Regions from separate parts of the Homo sapiens genome. Here region 2 is linked to region 1. The links come from fine-mapping of genetic effects on plasma protein levels. A gene starts in region 1. The other region holds a variant in brackets. All regions are shown on one strand. Distances are between the middles of the regions.

Region 1 (2,907 bases):
TTGAGCTCAGGAGTTCGAGACCAGCCTAGGCAACATAGTGAAACTCCGTCGCTATAAAACAAAACAAAACAAAACAAAAAACCAAAAATTGGCCAGGCGTGGTGGCACAGGCTTATAGTCCCAGCTACTTGGGAGGCTGAGGCAGGAGGATCGCTTGAGGCAGAGGTTGCAGTGGGCCAAGATCGTGCCACTGCCCTCCACCCTGGGCGACAGAGCAAGATCCTATCTTTTAAAAAAAAAAGTCTGTCTGGAAGTCCTTACTTTATATTTAATTGTCAAACTCCTTTCCCCCATCTCTTGACTTCACCTCTCTCTACATCCCCAAGCCAAGAATGATGAGAAATGGACAGATGTTAGCACGAGTTGGGTGCGCTTTGGGCATGGGGAAGTCTGAGGTCTCGGAAAATCTTTTCTACATATACACCCGGCCCTCACTTTCTGGACGCACGCAGCAAACTCTCAAAATAAAACCACCAAAAAGGAGAAGGGGGGGCGTCGCCCACCGCTCCTGGCATTCCGCGGCTGCCAACTCTTTCCCTCCCATCTGGCTCCTGGGATGCCCGCGGGGGAATCGCAGTGAGCAGCGCGGGGCGAGGCCGCCGCGGACGCCCCGTCGGATGTGCCCTTCGCTGGGCCGAGCGGCGCAGGGTTGGAGAGGGAAGCGCTCGTGCCCACCTTGCTCGCAGGTGCCCTTGCTGACCTGGGTGATGGCCTTCTCCCCGCGGCTCTCGGCCCTCTGGCTGGCGGCGCGCAGCTGGCAGCCGCTCGGGTAGGTGGTGCCGTCGCTGCCGCACACCGGGTAGCGGCTCTTGCACACGCACACGCCGCTTACACCCGGACCGCCGGCTGCTGCCCCGGCTTTACCCTTCCGCCTCTTGCGGCTCTTCACGCACTCCATGCCCGGCGCGCAGTACCCCCTGCCGGCGCCGCCACCCCCGCACGGCTCGCCCTCGCCGCGGGCGCACATAGGGCAGCAGCCGCACGCGTCGCGGGTCTCGCCCAGCAGGCAGCCCAGCGGGGGCAGGGGCGGGCAGGAGGCCGGCTCGCAGGGGCCGCAGGTGTCCGAAGAGGAGGAAGAGGAGAGGGGCAGGAGCAGGAGCAGCAGCCCAGCGGCGCCGAGGAGCAGGGCGCGCAGCGACGGCCGCTCCATGGCGGGGTGCGGTGGCAGCGGCAAGGGCGCGAGTGAGCCGTGTCGGGCCGGCCGGCGCCTTAAACCCGCCGCCCCGCCCGGCCTGTCCGCGGGAACCACACCCCGGGGCGGTGAGAGCACGGGGGCCCCGCCCGTGCCGCCCTCCCGGCCCCGCGGGGCCTGCGCGCGCGCTCCTGCTGGCGTCGGGGGGTGAGCGGGCACCCGGCGTGACCGGCCCATGGGCGCTCGGTCTCACGCCCGCTTCGCAGAGCTCACCCCGCCAGCTCCTGCTCGGTCCCCAGTCCCCTGCCCCGAGCCCTCAGGGATCGCACCGCAGTGCGAGCGGCTCTTCCACCCTCTGGTTTCTCCCCGTTTCCGGTCAATATATTTAAACTTCTTAACAACCACGGCTTCGAGACGATCCAGGGTTTCATCTATTAAATCCTCCGTGGGCCTGAGACACCTGAGTGCTCATTACTCTGTGGTTTGGGAAGCTCTCTTAAGAACAAGCTGTTAAAAACCCCCACTTGTGGACTGTGTCCCCGCTGGCCACAGGCCTGCTGTGGTCTTGGGTGTCAAGCACTAAAAGGACAAACCGTTGCCAACCACTTCCCTTTCTGGAACCTCTTAACTGCCTGCACCTCCCTCCCCGCTTTGTCTCCCAGTGGCATTCAACAAGACTCTGTGCTTTTTTTGTGCTGAGCCGTTTTCAGTGAGTACTGGAATCCGTGTGAGAGCTGTGCCCTTGTTTTGAGTTCTTGCTGAACTGCTCGCCCTCCAGCAAGCCTCTCGGGAGAACAGAGCGCAGCTGAGAGGAGCAGGGGTCCCAGCTCCTTCCTCGTTGGAGCTGCCACGGAGGCACCTAAAGCGCCCCCAGTCTTCACCAGCATTCCAGGAGGTTTTTGATATAAACGGTGGACTCTTCCTCAGTCTTTCTGCGAAGTGCTCTGCAAACTCAACTTGAAAGCCTCTCTTCCCAGGAACACTGGCCTCTCCAATGCAGACATGGAAGTTGCTTTCACTTTTTAACTGAATGTGTAACATTGCAGCGTGCATTATTCTGCATGTCACATTGTGGTTCTTTTGTGTTCTTTTTTCTTAGCATAAATCCAGGGATTTACAGGGTTGCTGACTGAAAGCCAGCAGTTCAGTTCATAATCCCATTAGCAGTGTAAAGAACTCATTCTCAACAGACTCTTACAAGGATAATTATTGCAAATTTTTTGAAAATTAAATGACCACAAAATCGGGGGGTGGAGAGTGGGGAAACATCCTCCAATCCAGAAAAACCTAGCACTGCTTTTTGGCCTCTCCTTAGTGTATTATAGACAAGTGGAGCATTTTTTTTCCCCTCAAAGGTCATATGTTGACCTGACAGTTGTTTAAAAAACAATGAAAAATCTTTACAGCAGAGTTTCCCTAAATATTTTTGTCTTTGTTCCATCCTAAGAGATGCAGTTTACATGACCCATTTGTTTTCTTGAAAAGGAAACAAATGCAGAGTGCACTCTATTTCCTATTGTATTTAATTTCTTTCTTTCTTTCTTTTCTTTTCTTTCTTTTTCTTTTTTTTATTTTTTTGAGATGAAGTCTCCCTGTGTCGCCTAGTCTGGAGTGCAGTGGTGAGATTTTGGCTCACTGCAACCTCTGCCTCCCAGCTTCAAACAATCCTTCTGCCTCAGCCTCCCGAGTAGCTGGTATTACAGGCATGCACCAACATGCCCGGCTAATTTTTGTATTTTTACTAGAGACAGGGTTTCACCATGTTGCCCAGGCTG
Region 2 (2,907 bases), 37 kb after region 1:
GCAGGTGGGGGAGCTGGGGAGGACACTTTTGTCTGCATGACTCTAAAGATCTGCCTGTTTCCCCTCCACTGTGCTGTCCTCCCTCAGCTATGGCTGGAAGGCTGAGAAACAAATCCACTACAGTTGGGGAAAAGGAACGACCACATTGTGAGCATCCGCTATGTGCCTGTCACTCTGGATATATCGTTTAAAGGATATAAAGTAGCCATTGAATTAGTGTCTGCACTTTCTACATGGAGGGAGGGTTGAGATGTTTTAATTAGGTGACCCAGATGCATATTTAGAGGCTGTGAGTGAGAACACAGAGGACAGGAAGCATTTATAGGGTGGCGGTTTAGGGTTAAAAAGTTCGTATTTCAAGATACAGCAGGAGGCAAAATGGACAAGGCCAAGGAAGAGTGGAAGTGGAAATACTATGTCTCAGAGAGCAAGGGGTATAGTATTTTTCCTGAGATAGGATTGAAGAAGGGGCAATGGATAAAGAGATACATTCAAAGATGGAGAGAAGAGCATTTGGAGAATCTATCCCCAGCAGGTTTTTACCAAAGCCAGTGGGTCCAATGATGAAGGTTACATTAGATCATTTCAAGGGTTTGGTGTCATAAAACACAAGAGACAAACTGTTTCTATTAGTAGTAGAAATGGGAAGGAGCAAAACAGATACACACTAAGTAGGTGGGATGCCAGCAGTTCAGTATTACCTTTATAATAGTTACATAAAACAAGCCAGGAAAGAAAGTTAGTGAATATGGGCTCTGGGTCATTATAGAATTCATTTAGAGAAGAAGAATTTCAGTTAGTAGCCTTCCTGAAAAGAGATGATAAAGAGGCCAGGATTACGCCCAGGGTCTAAGTACCGGCTGAGTATGAGGAAATTGACTCTCCTCCAACTCTGGGGTAGAAGAAACATGATTGGATCAGAGGGAGAGAGATGATTGAGTCATTAGTTAGGCAAAGCAAGAGCTGACGACAATGATAAAGCACTAATGCATCCAAGAGATTTTTTTTCCCCACTCTAGTGGCAATTTTTTACACTTTAAAAAAAGAAAGTGAAGTCGACTGATTTGTCTTGCTGACTTTAGAAAGCATTTAAAAATCTTTTAATGACACTCGATTATGTTAAACGGTACATTTCTCCTCTTTAATTTCTGCTTGCCTCAAGTGTGTCCACCCACTTGTCCTAGTTTCCCTGATTAGGCACCTGGTGGCAACCAATGATGTGAGTTACAGGAATGAAAAGGCATAAAAACCTACTTTAGGTTTTACTGAAGTTCCAGGAGGCTGGGCGTGGAGGCTCCCACCTGTAATCCCAGCACCCTGGGAGGCTGAGGTGGGAGGATCGCTTGAGCTCAGGAGTTTGAGATCAGCCTGGGCAACATAGTGAGACTGTCTCTACAAGAAATAAAAAAATTAGCCGGTGTGATGGTGCACTTGTGTAGTCCCAGCTATTCGAGAAGCTGAGGTGGGGAGGATAACTTGAGCCCAGGAGTTCAAGGCTGCAGTGAGCTATGATTCAGCCACTGTACTCCAGCCTGGGCAAAAGAGTGAGACTCTGTCTCTAGAAAAAAAGGTTCCAAGAATGTCATGGGGAATTTTATCACTTCTATTCTCTGGACATTTCACTGGGACTAATTTCTCTCATAAATTGGATGGGTGTTTT[C/T]CTTGAACAGATTCTGGACTAAATTGGGAAGTGGTACCTAAGTGCCTTCTTTGCCTCTTTTCTGTGACTCATTTCCTGCTCTTCATGTCTCTCTCCAATCTGGATGTTTCATATTCTCATAAAGGCTTGTGCTCAGTGCCTGTCAACTTAGAAGACACCTCCGCTAATGTGGAGATAATAGCTAGCCCTCTAAGAGCTTAGCTTCTGGGATTCTTACAAGGGCCATTCAGAGACCTCACTTTGATTGAACTCAAATGAAACAATGTTTTTTTTTTTTTGGAGACAGGGTCTCACTTTGTCACCTAGGCTGGAGCACAGTGGCACAAATATACCTCGCTATGATCTCGAACTCCTGGGCTCTAGCGATCCTCCTGCCTCATCCTCCTGTGTGGCTGGAACTACAGGCATGCATCATCATGTCCAGCTAATTTTTTTCTTTTTATTTTTATAGAGACAGGGTCTTGCTATGTTGACCCTGGTCTCAAACTCCTGGCTTCAAGTGTTCCTCCTGCCTCAGCCTCCCAGGTCCTGGGATTATAGGCACAATCCACTGTGCCTGGCCTGAAACAAATCTTTAATGGTAAAATTTTAGGTATCATAATAGGTTGCTGGAGAAGTGTTCTGGATTAAGGAAACTTTGGGAGTCCTTTGAATTCTACCCTGTGAGAAGCTTCACACACTTAGAATTTCTGAGCTCACCAGACTCTGATGTCCTAGTTGCTAGGAGTTTAGAGTAACATGAAGCTGACACTTGGACACTGTTCTTTTCCTCTGTTAATCATCTATGACTAACCAACCACATTCTGCAGGACTTAAAAGTATTCTAGTAGCCAAATTAGCTAGTAGTCCTTAATGCTTTTAAGCATCAGAAAGTGAAAAATATCAAAGAACTATTGCTGCATTTGAGGAGCTAGAATGAAGTTTGGTTTGGCTTGAGGAGAATTGATGACACCCAGGAGTATGTGCTGGTTTCCATTTGGTTCCCATTCACAGGCAAACGGAAAGTACATACAGCCTGGGGTAGGTCAGGCCAGCAGATATTTAAGTTGTTCAGTAGTGGCTGGGCCTGGGAATATGGGGTGATTTTGAAGAATTAAGTTCTGCAAAAGATTCAAGAGTACAAAGCTGTCTTCATCTTAGTCAAATGCAGGCAATCAATCTGTCCTTTGCATGTAATAAACTGGGACCTTAGAAGTGAAGATTAAATAATCTGGGATGGAAAATTGGTTGGAGAAGGTCCAGCCTGA

Alleles and levels. Positions count from the first base shown, and alleles are read on the strand shown. Strength reflects both the effect of a copy and how common the allele is.
For the plasma level of the protein whose gene starts at base 1,184 in region 1, allele T in region 2 goes with a lower level than allele C (weak association).

Evidence for each region. PIP is the chance, under the fine-mapping model, that this variant and not a neighbour inherited with it causes the effect. Protein levels are from antibody-based Olink assays in UK Biobank. Linkage for the fine-mapping came from a reference panel and not from the study's own genotypes, which makes the PIPs less certain.
Region 2: its variant is fine-mapped to the plasma level of the IGFBP7 protein (UK Biobank, PIP above 0.99).

What each region holds. Positions count from the first base shown.
Region 1 is chr4:57,109,202-57,112,108 of GRCh38, forward strand. IGFBP7 (insulin like growth factor binding protein 7) reads right to left here and starts at 1,184. Exons shown (of 5, transcript NM_001553.3): 1 at 676-1,184. The coding sequence starts at 1,150. IGFBP7-AS1 (IGFBP7 antisense RNA 1) reads left to right here and starts at 561. Exons shown (of 5, transcript NR_034081.1): 1 at 561-769. RefSeq lists a silencer at 1,253-1,322.
Region 2 is chr4:57,146,637-57,149,543 of GRCh38, forward strand. The region is part of intron 1 of IGFBP7-AS1 (IGFBP7 antisense RNA 1); the gene reads left to right. Among named protein-coding and RNA genes, the nearest start is that of IGFBP7, 38 kb to the left of the region's middle. The variant C/T (reference allele first, on the strand shown) is at 1,661.